2 separate regions of the Homo sapiens genome follow, and region 1 is linked to region 2. Evidence: fine-mapped expression QTL. Tissue or cell type: whole blood. Region 2 holds a variant in brackets; the other region holds the start of a gene. All regions are shown on one strand. Distances are between the middles of the regions.

What was found. PIP is the estimated chance that this variant, and not a neighbour inherited with it, causes the effect.
Region 1: it holds the start of SFMBT2, and the variant in region 2 is fine-mapped to the expression of SFMBT2 in whole blood (TOPMed, PIP above 0.99).

The regions. Positions count from the first base shown.
Region 1 is chr10:7,406,886-7,414,885 of GRCh38, reverse strand. It overlaps SFMBT2 (Scm like with four mbt domains 2), which reads left to right and starts at 3,852. Exons shown (of 21, transcript NM_001387889.1): 1 at 3,852-4,025. RefSeq lists enhancers at 1,763-2,682, 2,683-3,603, 5,955-6,034, 6,082-6,977 and silencers at 3,839-3,978, 6,195-6,534.
Region 2 is chr10:7,472,120-7,482,424 of GRCh38, reverse strand. LINC02642 (long intergenic non-protein coding RNA 2642) reads left to right here and starts at 9,576. Exons shown (of 4, transcript NR_184109.1): 1 at 9,576-9,655. RefSeq lists enhancers at 1,329-1,568, 10,128-10,227, 10,238-10,305. The variant C/G (reference allele first, on the strand shown) is at 4,410.

The DNA.
Region 1 (8,000 bases), 66 kb after region 2:
CTGAGGTCACTGGACTCCCAATACATTAACCATTAAGTGCTTTAATTGGGGATAGAAGATAAGGAAAAAAGGTGAAAAAATAAAAGACAGAGTGTATTTAGATTTACTCTTTGTGACCTTAGGATCCTGATGGAAAAATACTATCTTATGTAGCCTAAGAAAAAACAAGTTTTGGTTTCAAGGCTCCAGTAAAGAGAAGGTTGTACAAATTCTTCAAATATTTGGTTCTGGCCTCTTTTTCTCCTCCTTCTGCTTTCCTGTTAGGCTAGTATGTCTAATGGTTCATTAGGGAGTCTCTATATTAAGAAAGCATAATGGTTTATCTTCTATTTTCTTTGGTTCATTTCCTTTTCCCAGTGGGAAGTGATAACTTAAACATGGACTAGGTATGTACAAATTGAACATTTTTCTTGGGTACGACTAATGCAACAAGATTTAAGTAATCACATGTCCTAAATATAAAGAGAATAAATAGTACACATATAATTTTTCAACTCCTCTGCAATAGTTTTTGTGATGTAATGCTTAGGAATATAAGGAAAATGAGACAAAAACTTTTCAATTGTTATTTTATATTTCTAATTTGTGCTGTATCATTAGACAAATGGAATAGCATCTAAATATTTTACAATTAACCAATTAGCCCCATTTATGTTAAAGAATTCCAAAGTCCCTGTGAAGGGATAACTTGATCTGTAGAGTGATGAAATTCATGGCTTAAGCAAAGTTTAGGAGTGAAATAATATCTATAGTTAGTGTGATCAAAGGCTTATTTTGGCCAAGATTTTTAGTAAATATTAACAGTATAGAGAAAAATCTTGTGTTGATAATGAGATTTTCATGACCCTGTTTGAGCTGGAGTGCATAAGCCTTCTTTACTTTAAAAAAGCAGTCACAATTTTTGTCAGTGCGTTATCCTTTGCTGACTATGTGGAATTTTTTCCTACCTTTAATTGATTTAGGGTGCAACCTACATCTGGGTATATATCCCTAAAGTGTCTGGTTCTGAAATAAAAATGAAAGTGGAAAGGTATTGAAGTGGGATGAAGGGGCCACTTGAATTGCCTCAGGGAATCTCCTAACCAATTTTCATTTGCCTCATTGGTGCCCTTGGATAAAAGAGAATGGAGGTCGGTTGCAGAAAAGAAAATCAAGGAATCTTCAAAAAGTCACGTGCAAAAAGCAACACAAAAATAGGAGGGAAGGAGTTTTTTTTTACAATAACAATGCCACCTTTGTGTGCTGCGACTTCCTGATTATATTTCTTAATCACGATAGGTAACCCTCCCCCAAAATCACCATTTTGTGGACCCAGGAGCAAAATTATACGGGGTCTACGTACCCAAAACATTAAAAAAATTCAACTCCTTCGGAGTAACCAGGTAAGATAATGAACGCAGTCATACACTGTTTGGGATCAGGTGTTCTTCTGCATTTGCTTTTATTTGGATGAAAGAATGTTTCGTGCACAATGATGACCTAAAACTGGTAAACAAGCCTGGAGAGAGCGCGGTGGCTGGTTGCAGCTCACGTCTCCACGACTCCTGCAGAAGGAAATTACGTTCTCCCCTTCCCCCCCGCACCCCTACCCCTACCCCAAGCCCCCGGGAAGCCCTGCGCTGGCACCAGGGCAAGCGCCTGTCGGCTCCCGGGAGCTAAGCGAGGCCGCGCGGTCTGGGACGCAAATGGGAGGGAGCAGCCGCTGTCGCCCTGCGGGGCCAGGGCCACTGGGTAGGCGCAGCGCGGGCCAAGAGTGGGAGGCTCAGGGCAGGGGATCCGCACTCGGGGCCATTCCTGCCGCGGCGCGCCCTGCGCTTCAGCAGTGCACAGGGTGGGGACCCCTCGAGGACAGTGGTGCGCCGACGGGTCTCTCGGCCCCTCCCTTTCCACAGGCCCCGCTGTGTGGTGAAGGAGCCAGAAGAGGCGACTTGGGTGTTGAGACCCGGGGCCAAACCGTGGAGAGTGTCTGGAGCCCACACTCCAGATTTCTGGACGCCGCAGTCAGTCCAGCAGGTTCTACCTGGAGCCGCCTCGGGGCTCAACCGGGAGGCAGCGGGGTGCAGGCGAGAGGGTTAATGCGCCCGGTTCGGTTGGTTTGAGGAGTCTCTGCTTTCAGCGACCCACAGGGCAGAGAGCCCAGGGCTCCGGCTTGATGTCCCCAACAGCTGGGGACTGGAGAGCTGGAGGGGTCGCAGACTCAGGCTAGAGTTTAAAGTGCGCCGCGCGGCGAGTCGCTGGACTCTTCTGGGTCTCACGTGGCTCCTGTGTCACATGGAGTGACAGGCCGGCGGAAGGCGCTTTAGTCGTCGCCCAGCGTTCTCCAAGGTGTAAGGAGGCAGGATCTTCCCATACTGGCGGCGCAGGGGGCCTCACGGCTGCGGACGCCCGCCCTGGATCTCTCAGCTCGGCAGATCCTTTGGGTGGAGAGGCGCTCTCCAGGGTCGCGGCGAAGGAGAGCGGCTTCTCGGCACGTCCCTCCGTATTTCTTCTAGATCAGCTCCGGCCCCACCGTCCAGGAGAGGGCCCGCCTGAGGACCTCTGTCTGTGCCGCGCGTGGTCAGCCCCGGTCCCCTCACTCCATGGCTGGCCCCTAGCCCTTCAGAGCGGACACCTCTCCTTAGGGATGCAGGGCGAGGAAGGGCGGGTGGAGCTGCGAACCCACGGGGACCTGGAGGACCTCTTGGCCCCCTGGAGAGGGGTACTATGAGAGGGATTCATGGGACACAGATTTGGGGGACTGGGTAATTTTACCCCCTTTGGCAACCATAAAAACCCTGAGCAAACGTGTCCATTCGCTATTTCGCAGAAATATACAATGCAGGCCCACACAGGCATCTCTGCGAGGCCCCCTAGTTAAGGGCGCAGCGTTCTTCGGAAGCTCTTGGTCTTGCTACCAGGGCGTCACCGGCTTTTCCGCACTGGGGACATTTCGTTTGGGCTCTGCGCAGCCGTTGCACCTAAGGCCCTGGGAGCTCCGCGTTCCTCCCCAGGCGCCCGGGACAAAGTGCCCGAGGGCTCCGCAGACGTCCAGCCCTGCCCGGGGCTCACGGCCGCCGGGGCTCTCCAACGGACCGTCGAGGGCCACGTTTTGCTGGGGTGTGAGCGACGATTCTTTTCCCGCCCTATGAGGCCCGCCACTAGCTAGGTGCCCCATGAGACGCCGTGGCGAGCACGGCTACCTGGCAGCTCGCCCGGGCAGCCCCAACTTAATTTCCTGCCCCTCGGGGCACCTTTCCCTCGAATAGCTCTCCTCGGCCCCTCCAGCCCTGCCCAAGGGGCCTGGAAATGTTCGCAGCTTCAAGAAAGGCTCTATTTAAGCACAGGATGGGGTGGGGCGGGCGGGGCCAAGATTGCCCTGGGGATTGAATTTATCTCCGCTCCCAGCGATCCCCGGCGGATAAAGCGCAAGTTTGTGCACACGGTCGACTGAGCCATTGGAAACCCAGCTCACGAACCGCAGCCAGGGAAACGGGAGTTTGCCCAGTTGTCCTTGCGGAGGGGTGTGCGGAAACGCCCGCGATGGGAACTTTCTGCAGATCATGTATGGAGGGAGCTCACAAAAAGGAGGAAGGGGAGCGCGGTGGGGAGGAGGCCGCGTGGGCGTGGAAGGTCCCAGGGTCCTGGGGGTGCCCGCCTGCTTAGGCGCAGGGAATGGCGCGGAGCTGGCTGGGGAAGGAGCCGATCACGTCCCGCAGGCTAATTGGCTTAAGAAATTTTGCAAGCGCTGGAAAAGGTCGTTGAAGGAGTTCGCTGCACGCGCACGCACACACATACACACACACACAAAATCTTAAAAAAAAAAAAAAAAAAAAAAAAAAAAGAGCGCCGAGCATGCGCACAGAGAGGATGCCATATTGGAATGAGCTGTAGTGGGAGCCGGAGGACCGGAGCGGGCGCGCGAGGGAGGCGGCGGGCGGGGAGCGAGCGGGCAAGGGCGGGCGAGCGAGCAAGCGAGCGAGGCCGGTGCCCTCCCGGGCGGCGACCGGGGCCTGGGTCCACGCCGAGGGCAGGACGAACTTCACCAGGTAGGACGCCGCGCCGGCTGCTGTCCCCGGCGCCCAGGCTGGCCGGAGAGCAGCCCTTCGGCCCGCAGGTTGAGTGCGCTGGTCAGGGGCTTTTTCCAGCCTAGGAAAAAAAAGGAAAAAAAAAAAAAGGAAGGAAGCCTGAGGGAGCTGGGGTTGGAGGTGGCGGGTGGGGGAAGGCTGGGGAGGGTGCAGGGGAGCGAAAGAGAAGGGCAGGAGAAGAAAGCGACTGCACTTGAGCGAAGCTTCAAACTCCTCTGTGCGCTCCAGGTTGTCATTTTTGCTTCCCGGGTCCCCTTCGCCTGCGTCTCCGGGCTCGGAAAAGCCGAGCCGTGCGGGAGTCCGTCCGGAGTTGCAAAGTGTCCTCCTTCCCCGGGCGCAGCCTGTCCCCTCCCGCCGCCCACCTTCCTCGTTTCTGCACTCATTTTAGCGACGCAGCCGCCGCTGCTACCTACCCCGCGCTCCCGCGTCTCCTCCGCGCTGGGGTCTCCCCTTTCTTTTGGTTTGGGTGGGAGAAAAAGATGGTGAGGACGGGGAATCGGAGACCGGCATGGGGGTAAAAATCGTGCAGACATTCGGAATCGCTCCCTTGGAAACATTTGCCTGAGCAACTGAAATAAAATTGGCAGTAGTAGTTTTGGAGCGTGCTCCAGCGAGGATGGTCTTTTTGTTCATTATTTTCTCTTTAAAGTAATATCCTGTCACTTAGGGGCTTTCCGGTTGTCTCCTCTTATTCGACCCCCTTTCAAAATTGCTGACTTGAGCTGGTTCTGGAGTTTATTTTTTAATATGCGTGCGTGGGTATGTGTATGTGTGTGTATGTTTTGCAGAAATCCGCCAAAATGCAACTGTAGGAACTGCGAGATGTATTTATTGATTTTGACCAGGGGCGGTGGGAAGGGGCTGGAGGGAGCTGGGGGATCCTGGAGGGTGGGAAGTGGCTGATTCTCGGTGGCCGGACACTCATCCAGAGCCTGATCCGTACTCGTGTTTTCTTGGAAGCGCCACAACTGCGGGGAAGGAGTCTTTAGAAACCGTGCCAGTTTCAATATGGCGGGCTAAGGTGGCTTTTAAAAACTGAAAATAAAGGTTTTGAGGTGGGAAAAAACCCAGCTGAAGTTTCCACCCCTTAGTTTCGACTCTCTTTGGCTACCCCAGGAAGCGCTTTAGCGAATTAAGTGGGGAAAAAAAGAAGGAATGGGCTGTCCGGTTTTTTTTTTCCGTGGTTAGAGTCTGTGTGTCAAGTCCATTGCTAGGGGGGAAAGGGATGGAGAAGTGCCCCTGGCCCGGACCAGGGCACCGAAACGCAACTGTCGTGTGTGCCTGTGGATTAGTGTGCAGGCCTGCGTGTGCGCAGTTTTTTTGGGTGTGTGTGTCAAAGAGAACCACCCCGAATGTGTGTGTGCGTCTTGGAACCAGACCCTGCCATGATTTGACGTGACAAACTGCGGACACGTGGTGTAAAGTACATGAGGGCAGAGGGAGTGATTTATTTTGTCTTTCTAGGAGACGAGCTAGCTCTCGCCTTGTGTGTGCTGGATCCTGCGCGGGTAGATCCCCGAGTAGGTGGGGCGAGGAGGTGCTTATTAAAAGGACTAACTGTCCCGGGTATTGGGTGCAATCGGGCTGCAGACGCCAGCCGGATTTCGTGTGTGCAGGGGGCGCGCTGCACTTAATAGTGGGCTCCTGCTTTCCTCCACGCCGCTCTGGGGTGGGAGGTGGGGGACCGGGACCGAAGCTTGGAGAAGACCAAAGTGGTGGTGGTGGTGGTGGGGTGGGGCAGAAGGGCGGGAGCGCGCGGCTCTGGGAGACAAGCACGTAGGGTCGAGGCGAGGGGTTGCCTTCCTTACTTTTGGGTTTCGCGCTCTAGGGAAGGTGGGGGATGGGGACAGCGTTTGGGGAAGAAATTGTCCCTTGCTCGGCTTAGGAACCCTCTCGGCGCATCGGAGAGGGGCATCTTCTTGTCTTGGCGGGCATGGAGGCCGGGCAGTCGCCGGGGGATGTGAGTGGGCGGCGAAGTGCGGGGGAAAGGTCGGCGTTCCAGGGCGGGGAGGATCTGGGAGTGGAGTTCGGAGACAAAATCGGGGTCAGGCAGAGGAGCCAGAGGGAAAGCCAGCAAACGCGAGCTCGGGTGAGAGCCACCGGAATGCGGGAACGCAGCTTAGCCGGGAACAGGGTTCCCGACAGGGGTCGCCCGTGGCCAGGACGCGGCCGCTGAACAGAGGTCGCGCGGCGGTTCCTGCCCGAGGGACCTCGTGGGCGGGGGCCACACGGAGGCCGCGCACGGTCCCCGGGGCTGGCGGGGGCAGGTGGGAGGACCTCCTCCGGGCCCGCGAACCTGATCTGGCAGCGGCCAGGTGCCTGGAAGCGTTTTTAAATGATAGGGTTACAAAGACATGTTGGCCAGGTTTGTAGTTAGCGCAGCAACGTGGTTTGCAGGAGCGCAGAACGAGGCTAGACAGGGTCACTCGGACGCCGTGCTGTCAGTGGGTGGGGGCCGGGAGCAAGCGGCACTGGCTTGGAGACCCCGCGGCAGGTGACCCCTCCCACCTGGGCAGCGAGGCTGAACGATGGCGACACGCCGGCCAGGACGCGTCCGTGGCTCCTCCAGCCTGCGTTTGGGCGCGCCCTCCCGGGGCCGGCTTTCCCATGGGCCCCGCGAGGTGGGGAGCAGCCTAAAATGGCTCTGTGCTGCGAAGCTGCAGTTTCAGCCGCGAACCCCTCCCCTTGTCCTCCTGACGTCGCCGCTGACAAGCGCAATTTGCTCCAAGGCCCCGAAACCCGCGATTTTGCACGAGGCCGTGCCGTGGAAGCGGATGTACAGTTGATTACAAAGAACATTCCACAGGGTTCTCGAAGGGCCCAAGTTTTTCCTTCTGGTGGGGAGGAGGGAGGAGCCGAGACTGGGCAGGAGCCCGGCCGACCACCGCTCTGGCACCTAGGGGCTCGGGGCGCACCAGTAGCTGGGGCTGGGGACCTGGATGCGCGAAAAGCCGAGGGAGTTCCCGGGGACGCGGATGGGGACCATTCGGGGCAATAGCCACGGACACCGGTGCTCGTGGTTGATGGCGTTTGTGGTGTCCGAGAATCCCGGGACGACGCTGGAAAGCCTGGGAGACCGTTCTCAAACTTCTGGAGACCAGCTCGCAGTTTCGCTTTCGGAATTTTCAGGATCTTTGGGCCTTTAAAGTTGGGTGGGATTCCAAGAAGGCAAGGCGAGGCTCGTGGCCCTGACGATCGGCCGCCCGACTTCTCGCTCACCCCAGCCTTCTCTACCTTGTCTCCCTGAACCTTGCCGAACCGAGCCGGGTTTGGGGTTCCGGGGCCCCGCGCACCAACCCCAGCCGCGTCCTGAGGGCTCCCGCAGCACAGCCGCGGCTGATCCGAGGCCATTGGTGGGAAACCAATTTAGACGAGGCCGACCCCTCTTGGATCTGGCTCGGTTGCCGCTGCCCACCACTCTCCATCCCCCCTCCACTCTTGCACCGTAGAGAAGGGAACTGGGAGACCTACTAGCGTGTCTACACCAAGGGAAAGAACCCATGTTCCAGCAGGTCGGAGAAAAGGAGAAAACAGGCTTAAATGTGGCCTCGTTTCCTGGGGAGGCTGTTGGGGGTGGGGAGGGAGTTGAGCGGGTAAGTGGGGTGGGGGAGGGGAGAGGCGTTGTTGCTCAGCAGGAATTGTTCCCTAGGCCCGCCCTGGAGATAGGAGGTCTCCTGCTTTTTCCCTACTAAGCATTAAATTTGCACACACTCTGCTTTCTCCCTTCCATAAATAAATACCGTCTCAGATCTTATCTTTGCTCTTGCTGGGACCAAGCTGCCTGCCTGCAAGAGAGTGGGAGACACCCACGCACTTCTCCACTTCCCTCCCCCCCCGCCAACCCTCTAGGTCCCCACCAAAGAGTTTACTGCTTGCAGGACCCATTCTTGGGCCGGTGCAGAACACTGCCCCGAGCCGGGGGTCTCGCAGCCCCCA
Region 2 (10,305 bases):
ACAGAGCCTGCCTGAATTGAGATCAGTATTTTTTTTTTTTTTTTGAGATGGAGTTTTGCTCTTGTTGTCCAAGCTGGAGTCAATGGCGTGATCTCGGCTCACTACAACCTCCACTTCCCAGGTTCAAGGAATTCTCCTGCTTCAACCTCCTGAGTAGCTGGGATTACAGGTACACGCCACCATGTCCGGCTAATTTTTTGTATTTTTAGTAGAAATGGGGTTTCACCATGTTAGCCAGGATGGTCTCTATCTCCTGACCTCAGGTGATCCACCCGCCTCAGCCTCCCAAAGTGCTGGGATTACAGGCGTGAGCCACCGTGTCCAGCCGAGATCAGTTTTAATTCTCACATTCTACTGCAAAGGTAAAATGGTCTTGGGCTGCAGTTCTCTGTTTTGAGACACCAGACAGGTGAAAAGGCAGTAAAGTCCCTGGACTCTCATCACCAGTTGGCTGGAGACCCAGGGTATGAGCCCAGAAGGAAGGAATAACAGCAGAGGCTGGAAAGTGAGCCAGTGAGTGGGGCTGTGTATGTCAGAGCTTCCTGCCATCTCTCCTCTTCTTCCTCTTCATCCCCTTTCCTTCCCTTTCCCTCTTCTTTCATTCATTAACTGGTGAGACAACCAGCCAGCATTGCCGAGAGAAACAGGGAGACTGTGACGATCCACAGGGTGCGGTATCATGTTTGTATTCCACATAGTCAGTATGATTCAAAGATCCAAAAGTTTGACCCAGCATGTTGGACAGGCACATACACAACATACATGCATGCACACGCGTATATTTCTAGTAATTATCCACAGGAAGTAGTGAGTCCACAATGCCAAGAATTTCTCCTTTTCAGTGGCTATTTGTGATGAGAAGCAATGTGCATTCCACTGCATTCTAGCATCAGATTATGGGAGGGGAATGTGGTCATCGAAGGCATGTCCTCTTTCCTATAAAGATTTCATTCAAATAGAGTTCTGCATCTGATAGTAAAAACAAACAAACAAACAAACAAACAAAAAAACAGAGGACAATTTCTTCGCCAATGAAAATGGCCCCCTATGAAGGCATAGGAGCCTATTTCAAATAAGGATTAGGAAAAATTCAACAAGGGAAATGATGCTTTGAGTATGTTAACTTGCAAAAGGAAGAACCCTATTTCCTCTTTTCTAAGAGGAAGACAACTACTTTTGCTTTGATCAGAGTGCCGCTTGAGTGGCCAGAACTGACAAGGTTGGCAGAAGCGATGAGCTGAGAATTAAGGGCAGCGTCTGGGCCTGTGGGAGGTGCCATATGTGGGCTCACATCCACTGAACCTTGATCTCCTTTGCACACCTCCATGTAATTTATAAATCAGCAGTATTCACTCTGCCAAGAGGAAGTCTACAAAAAAGAGATGTGCTTGGCGCTCCTGGAAATGCTTTTACTTTGGGGAAAAAGCAGAGTGTACACTTTGAATGGAAATAAGCAGGCTGAAGCCACAGAGGCCATTTATATGCAGCACCGGGATGCAGACAGGAGAGCGGAGCCCTCCTTAAAGGCGCAGATCGCTGAGAAGGCTCATCTCTCTCCATGCTTAAGAGGCCTGACTAGGCTTGGGTCTTGTTTGATAACCAGGGCATAACATTTAAACATACTTACAAAAATTCTTCCATAAAATCAATTCATAAAAACTTCTAACTCTGAAGCAAAGTGTTAAAATAGGTACTGGGTTACCCGCAAGGATTGTTGTCAGAATAAAATGAAAGGACCTAAAAAGTTAGCATACCAGTTGAAGCCATTCTTACTAAGACATGCATTGTATGCTTGAATAGATAGAATTCAGAGCTAAAATCTAAACTTTGGCCGTCTGAACACTGCCCATCAGGATCAGCCACAAGAGCCCCCCCTCAATTACAAAGCTGGTCCTCACCACCTAGTTCATGTTGGATTTTGATCCTTCTCAGTGTCTTCACTTATTCTTGTTATTTCCAACATCATGTTTTCCAAATCCCAACTTCTTCCCTCACTGGCTGTGTGACCATGGGAAGTTACTAGACCTCTCTGAGCTTTTGTTTCCTCATCTGTAGAATGGGGTAACAGTACCACCTTCAGTTACAGAACACCCCACATCAGCTGGTTTGCAACATGCCCTTGATTTCCCCTGGTTTCTCTCTCGCCTTTTACTCCCATCCCCACCCTTTCCCATCCCGGGTCCCTGCTACATCTCATGACTGAACAACTCTTGCAACCCACGGGGCATAATTTTGCTCCTCTCTCTAGCCACAAGACAAAAAAAATGATAATAAGACTAATCATGTGAATTCGAGGCTCTATGCAGCGTCCATAGCCCACAATTCAGACTCTCCAGGGATGTTTCTGAATAGGAACCCCACAATTCGCCAGATGACAACACGTCACATCCAAATAACCCCTCTTCTTGCTTCGCCACACCAACAAATGGGGTCGTATAAATTTGGAGAGCTAGAGTAGATTTTCTCTCATCACTGCCTCTCTGCAGTTTTATCCACAGGAAAAAGAGAAACAGTTGAGTCTTGGCTACGTGAATTAATATCTCCTGTCTTATTTTTTTTCGTCGTACTTTTTTTTGTTTTCTTTCTTTTTCTTTATCGTTGTTTTTTTGTTTTGTTTTGTTTTTGTTTTTTAGACAGAGTCTCACTCTGTCACCCAGGCTGGAGTGCAGTGGCGTGATCTTGGCTCACTGCAACCTCTACCTCCTGGGTTTAAGCAAATCTCATGCCTAGGTCTCCTGAGTAGCTGGGATTACAGGTATGAGCCCCTATGCCCGGCTAATTTTTGTATTTTACTAAAAATAGTCAAGAGAGGGGGTTTTGTTATGTGGGCCAGGCTGGTCTCGAACTCCTGACCTCAGGTAATCCACCCAACTCGGCCTCCCAAAGTGTTGGGATTACAGGTGTGAGCCACTGCGCCTGGCCCTTGGTACTTTTTAATGACTTAAATAATATAGGCAAGTCTAAGGCAGGATGGAAATAGTTTTAAAACGAATTTTATTCTGAGATAAAACATCTGCTTTATTTTTTCTATAGGGAGAATGGTTTCATAATTGGTAACTTTCAGTATCGCTGAAATTTAAAGGTGGCTTGGTGATGGATTTGTCTTTATTTTAGTATGTGTTGCTTTCTGTCTCTATTTTATGTCTTTTAAGTATTTGATTTCTAAGTGCTATGGTATTTCATTTCCTTTTTAATGTGTCTTCTTAAAAATGAAAGTATATGATTATATAATCTTAGGCAGATGAACTACTTTCTAGTTATGACATCAAAGGACTAAAGTACAACAGAAAATATCTCAACACATGACTATACAAATATATTTTTAATGTCTATCAAATATTTCATATATAAAATTCAGAGGCACATAACTAGATAGGAGAAGATAAATTTCAAGTGTGTAGGAATCAAGTTTAATATCCTGTCAGGTGGTAGGGGCACACACCTGCAGTCCCAGCTACTCAGGAGGCTGAGATGGAAGGATTGCTTGAGCCCAGGAGCTTGAATCTGGCTTGGACAACATAGTGAGACATTGTCTTTGAGAAAAAACAAACCGAAAGCCAAAAGCAAAACCAAAGAGACAGAGAGAGAGAGAGAGACAGACAGACACAGAGAGAGAGAGAGAGCACTCACAAATCAAAAAGATATAAATGAGCATCTAAATAGAAGAAAATGAGTAAAAGACATGAATAAACATTTCGTATTGGAAGAAAATGAACTGAGCAATAAATAGAGGAAAGTATGTGCAATTCCAGGCATCAAAGAAATCTAAATTAATATGAGGAGACAACATTTTTAACTACTTTAATTGGCAGAATTGTTTCTTTTTTCAGTAGTCAACCTAATATTGGCGAGGATGCAGAAAACAGAAATGTTCAGACATCTCGCTACCGGGAATGAAATGCACAAATGATATTAATTTTCTTGACCCATAGTTTCTCATCTGATGCAATCCCATTTGATTGCATATTTGACCTTAAGGAAATATTTGCAAACGTTTAGTTGGAATGATAGTTATTATAGTGTTCTTTATTAAATAGAATAGTTAAGACATAGAAACATCTTAATATCTAACCAAAAAGGACTTGATTACATGAATTATGGTATATTTATACACTAGAAAACTAGGCAGCTATTAAAGTAACTATGATTTTCTTAGTCAGTGCTCTTCAGGTGAAATCGACTTGAATGAGTAAAGTAAGTAAAAACGCAAATTACTCAAAAGTCAAAACAAGCAAACTCATGAGGATGAGAAGTTCAGCCAGTGCACGTGGGGCGTGGAGCAGGTGTTAGGGCTGCCCACTGTCTCATCCATGAACACCTGTGGCATCTTGTCCCTGCCTCTCTCAACAGGTCTACTCTCATTTTCTGCTTCTCTTTTTAGATAATCTCACTTGGCCTACTCATGCTGT[C/G]TCCACTCCCTCATGAATTCCCTTTGCATGGAGCACATTCTTTGGATTTTAGCCGTGTCTGCCCGGACGCTGTTCAACTGTACAGCACACAGGCCTTCATCATGGTCTAAGGGACTCAGCCTTACAGGCCTGTCTCAGTAAGTTCTGGCTGCTATAACAAAATACCATAAACTGAAAGCTTATAAACAGCAGAAATTTATCTCTGACAGTTCTGGAGGCTGGGAAGTCCAAGACCAAGTTGCCAGCAAACTCAGTGTCTAGTGAGGGCCCACTTCCTCGTTAACAGGCACCCACCTTCTCACCGTTTCCTCACACGGTGAAAAGGGTGGGGAATCTCTTTGGGGCCTCTCTTATAAAGGCCCCAATCCCATTCATGAGGGCTCCACCCTCATGACCTAATCACCTCCCAAAAGCCTCACCTCCTAATACCATCCCACTGAGGGAATAGCTTTCAACTTATGAATTTAGGGAAACACAAACAGACCCTAGCAACAGACTAATTCCAAATTACTGGGAGAGAGATTCTGATTGACTCAATTTGAGTCTAATCCAGACCTGGTCCAATCACGGGTGTGGGGAAGGTATTTGGTGGGCATAAGTGAAGAGATGTTCTGAATTGGGATCACATGGTGCATAGGGTCAACTCTTCCAGTTAAATTCAGGGGAAAGGATAGAGTCTAGAGATGGATTTGGCATGTCTATCACACAGCAGAATATTGAACATTAGAAAAAAATACACTCTACTAAATGACAAAAAAAGTTTGCACTAAATATAGTGTGATTCTGATTTTTTAAAAAATATGTATATATACGCATATATATGCTGAGAATAAATTGCTGGGAGAATTCCTTGTCATGCACTTACGAAAGATTTTTCTTTTCTTCTTTGACACAGAGTCTCGCTCTGTGGCCCAGGCTGGAGTGCAGTGGCACGATCTCAGCTCACTGCAAGCTCTGCCTCCCAGGTTCAAGCGATTCTCCTGCCTCAGCCTCCCAAGCAGCTGGGATTACCGGCACATGCCACCATGCCTGGCTAATTTATTGTATTTTTAGTAGACATAGGGTTTCACCATGTTGGCCAGACTGATCTTGAACTCCCGACCTCAGGTGATCCGCCTGCCTTGGCCTCCTAAAGTGCTGGGATTACAAGCGTGAGCCACTGCACCCAGCCAGAAAGATTTTTCTTATTTATAATTTCTGTTTTCTAGATTTTCTGTAATAAAACCTAGCGTGGTGTTTAAGTCATAAGAAAAAATATACATTTTCATAAAGAGAAAATAAGTACAGTAAGGGCACACACATTTAATTAAAATTTTTTTTTATTATTTTAATTTTAATTTAATTTTATTTTTTTTTGTAGAGACAGGCTGGTCTGGAACTCCTGGCCTCAGTCTCTCAAAGTGCTAGGATTACAGATGTGAGCCACCACACATTTTAATTTAAAAAAAAAAAAGAAAGAGTGTAGAATTCTAAATTAACCCTTATTGAAAGATAATTATTCATAATAATGGGACACGATTTATAGTGGGACAGACAACAATATCACAGCGGGTAATATTACGGGTACCTTAAAGCAAGGAGTGCTTTTGCCTTAAAATTCATTGTGTTTCTATTTGGTGGATGTGGGCAGTGGGAGTTTAAGAATACGTTTAATCTATAGGAAAGCTATCAATACTGATATGAGTTTTTAAAACGTTTATATGCCTATTAAAGGTAGTAAGCCAAAAAGCACTGAGAAAATGTGTGATTTTAGAAGAAACAGAGAACTTGGGAAAATGCTGCAGCAGCTGGGGCATGACCCTTAGTCTTAGGAACTAGCTGTGCTATCTGAGAAAAAGCTTTCCCTTTTTAGCTCCTTCCCTGTCTGTCTGCTCTTGAGCCTATGAGCGTCTGTGCTGCCCTGAACATCTGCTTCGTAAGAGCCCCTTGCATTTCTTCCAACACACATTTCAGTTGGCCAGCAAGAACGGCCTTACAATGAAATGAAATTCTCATAATTTTACCTCAAAATGAAATTTTACCTCGAAATGAAATTTCAAGAGATGCCAAAACTCCCACTTCCACCCCATTTGTTCTAGAAAAGAAATATCCATTACACATTTATTTCTCGGAGTGAGTCCTGTCCAGAAGCCGGTATTGGAAACGCAGACATCCCTGTGCAAGAAGACACGCAACCATAAACACTTGAGTGTGAACGCTTCCGTCAGGGTGCGCTCTGCGGTCCTCCTGCTCGAGGGAAGGAGGGAGACTGGTGGCCTTTCAAAGGAAAGGATGCAAGGGCTGAATGGTTGCTAGGACGCCCCTGGGAAGAAACAGCTGGGATCAGCAGGAAGGCACCAGACGCTTGGCAGGAAACGACCGGCGAGAGATGGGGGAGCAAAGGCTCAGGGGCAGAACAGCAGAAGTGTTGACTCAGTGCAGGGCTGGTCCTGGCTGTCCCCAAGAGGTGACCCCTATCTTTCCATGGACTCTCTGCAGTTTCTGACTACCCCACTTCATGTAAATCCTGAGCATTTGGTGACTGAGGGCACTGTCCTCACCGTGGGGTGGACCGGGATAGGGGGGCAACCCATGGGCTCCTTGGCTGCCTCCGTGATCTCCCTGGCCCAGGGCCAGTTGTTCCTGCCGAGAGGCATAAATCAGCAGTTGTAACCTGTTGCAATGAAGGTAGAATCCACAGTTGTTTTTCCTGTAGCCCCCAGCTGGGCTTTTGCTTAATTAGGCTCAGAGGAGCCCGTGAATGATTGCGTTTGCCGAAACGCGTCACCAGAACACGCTGTTCTGATTTGGCTGCATCTGAGATTTTATGTTTGAATATTTTGCCGCCTGGCTTAAGCCAACAATATTTAAAATATTCTTCTTTAACTTGCATCTGCAATGAATGCATGGTCATATTCCTACAACCAAGTCCGGTAAGAGATGTTCCACATTCAATCCAGGTCCAGGTCTTTCAGTCTAGTCCAGGGTGGGTAGATTAGGGAGGCAGGGTAGAATACAGGGACAGTGGCAGAGGTGGGGACAACAGAGAAACCCCCAAAGAAAGGCCATCATCTAAAGGAGGTGACTGCCTGAGGTCAGGAGTTCGAGACCAGCCTGGCCAACATGACGAAACTCCATCTCTACTAAAAATACAAAAATTAGCCGGGCGTGGTGGCGCACGCCTTCAATCCTACCTACTGGGGAGGTTGAGACACGAGAATCACTTGAACCCAGGAGGCAGAGGTTGCAGTGAGCTGAGATCACGCCACTGCACTCCAGCCTAGGTGACAGCGCGAGACTCCACCTCAAAAAAATAAATAAAAATAGAAAATAAAAAAGGTGACTGGAGGGTCCCTGTGAGTGAGGCTGGGGCCCGTGAGAGTAGAGCTCAGTTCTTGGAGACTGAAGACTCATGGGAGGAACTCAGCAGGCAGAGGCCTCAGGGCGCTGCTGGGACTCTCAAACCACATTCTGCTACAGCCAGCTGCACCTGGAGGGGAAAGAGAAGTCCATTCAAATAATCAGAGATGTCCTGGGCTCATCGGGACCACTCAGCTGTTGCCTGTCCTAAGAGTACTTAGAAGAACTTGCAGTGAAATTTCCAAATAGAAGGGGGGGGGGGCGTAATTAATTATCCATCCCTTTGGGATATTGGAAAAATGCCCTCGGGTTATCCATTACCCTCTGTTAATCAGGACGGACTAGAATTCCATGATAATAAACAAGGCCCCAGATCTCACTGGTTTAAAACAGCAAATGGGCTGGGCGCGGTGGCTCATGCCTGTAATCCCAGCACTTTGGGAGGCCGAGGTGGGCAGATCACCTGAGGTCAGGAGTTCAAGACCAGCCTGACCAACATGGTGAAACCCCATCTCTACTAAAAATAAAAATAAAAAAAAATTAGCTGGGTGTGGTGCCAGATTCCTGTAGTCCCAGCTACTCGGGAGGCTGAGGCAGGAGAATCACCTGAACCCAGGAGGCAGAGTTTGCAGTGAGCCGAGATCACGCCATTGCACTCCAGCCTGGGTGACAAGAGTAAAACTCTGTCCCCCTCCCCCAAAAAAAATTAAAAAATTAAATAAAACAGCAAATGTCTGTTTCTCATTCATGCCACATGGCCATCACAGGTTAGCTGGTGTGTGCTCTGGTGAGGCACCAAGGTCCTCCCCATTCCTCCCTCCCCCCAGCCCCTGGCAACTGCTAACCTACCTTCTGTCTCTATGGATTTGCCTATTCTGGACATTGCATATAAATGGAATCATAATATGTGGCTTTTTGTGCCTGGCTCCTTTCCCTGAGCAGGGTGTTTTCAAGGTTCATTCATGTCATAACATGTCTCAACACTTCATTCCTTTTTAATGGCTGAATAATACTCCATTGTTTGAATATACCACATTTTGTTTATCCATTCATCATTTAATGGCCATTTGAATTATTCCACTTTTTTTGTCTATAATGAATAATGCTGCTGCTATGAGCAGCTTTTGTGGCATTCCATATGTTTTTGTATGTTGTATTTTCATTTTCCTTCATCTGTAAGTATTTTCAAATTTCCCTTGTGATTTTTTTTCTTTGATTCATTGGTTATTAGGAATGTATTGTTTAATTCCACATATTTGGGATTTTCTCAACTCTCTCTGCTATTGATTTTGAATTTAATGTGAAACTTTTCACAGTTGTTGATTTTGTACAAACCTACCAAGAAGTAGACATTGTGGACAATTCCACGTGACCCCCATATTGACCACCGATAGTTTCTAAGTGCTTTATGAACTTGCAGACTTGTGTTTTATTCTTCTTTCTTTTCTTTTTCTTTTTAAGAAACATATGATGCAGATACATGGGTGGGCTTATTAGTTCCTTATTTGTGTTAGAATAATGACCATCCCCAAAAGATGTCCATATCCCAGGGCCTGGAACCTGTGAATCTGTTACCTTAGATGGCAAAGGGACTTTGCAGATGTGATTGAGTTAAGGAACTTGATATGGGGAGGTTATCCCAGATTATTCAGTGGGACCCAGTGTAATCACAAGGGTCCTGATAAGAGACTGGCAGGACAGTCAGGGTGAGAAAGGAGATGCAGAGGCAAAATCAGAGGCTGTAGTGACGAGCTCTGAGGATGGAGGAGGGGGCTACCAGCTAACGAACGTAGGCGGCCTTTAGAAGCTGCAAAAGGTAAAGAAATAGCTTCTCCTTTAGAGCCTCAAGAAGGAATGAAGCTCTGCCAACAGTTTGATTTTAGCCCCAAACTCTGATCTTCAAAATTGTAAGTAAATAAATTTGTGTTATTTTAAAAGCCGCTAAATTTCTGGTAATGTGACAATAGAAAACAAATACACCAAGGAATGAATGATTTCATTTTGCAGTTTTTTTTATAATTCTAGCAGTTTGGCAAAAGAGAGTAAGGGCTAAACACCTGGCTTATGGAGTCAGATGACCTGAATCCAAACTCTGGTGAGAAGCTCTATGAATTGGGCATATTACTTAACTTGCTTAGGTTTCAATGTACATTTTTGGAAAAATGAATCCATCTCGTAAGATTGTTGTAAGGATTAAATGAGTTACTGCAGTAATACTGGTACAACAGTGTCTGGCTCACAGTAAACACTCAACAAATTTTAGTTGATTTATAGAACATGTTGTTGCACATTTCAGCAAATACTAGAGCTAGGAAGTAGAATTGTGTTGAGAATTCTGCATTGCTGTGTCCGGATTGCTGCTGTCACAGCCATATTAATTGCTTACAAATCAGAGAATGAGCATTCTGAGCAGCACGTGGTCCCAGGCTGTAGGTGTCTGCAGCGCTCAGGAAAAGCCCCGATGCTCCCCAGCAGCTGCACCTGCTCCCTTGGGAAGGAGTCTCTTTTTTGTTCCTCTTTCAGTTTCTGAAGAGAACAGAACATTTGCGCCATCTGG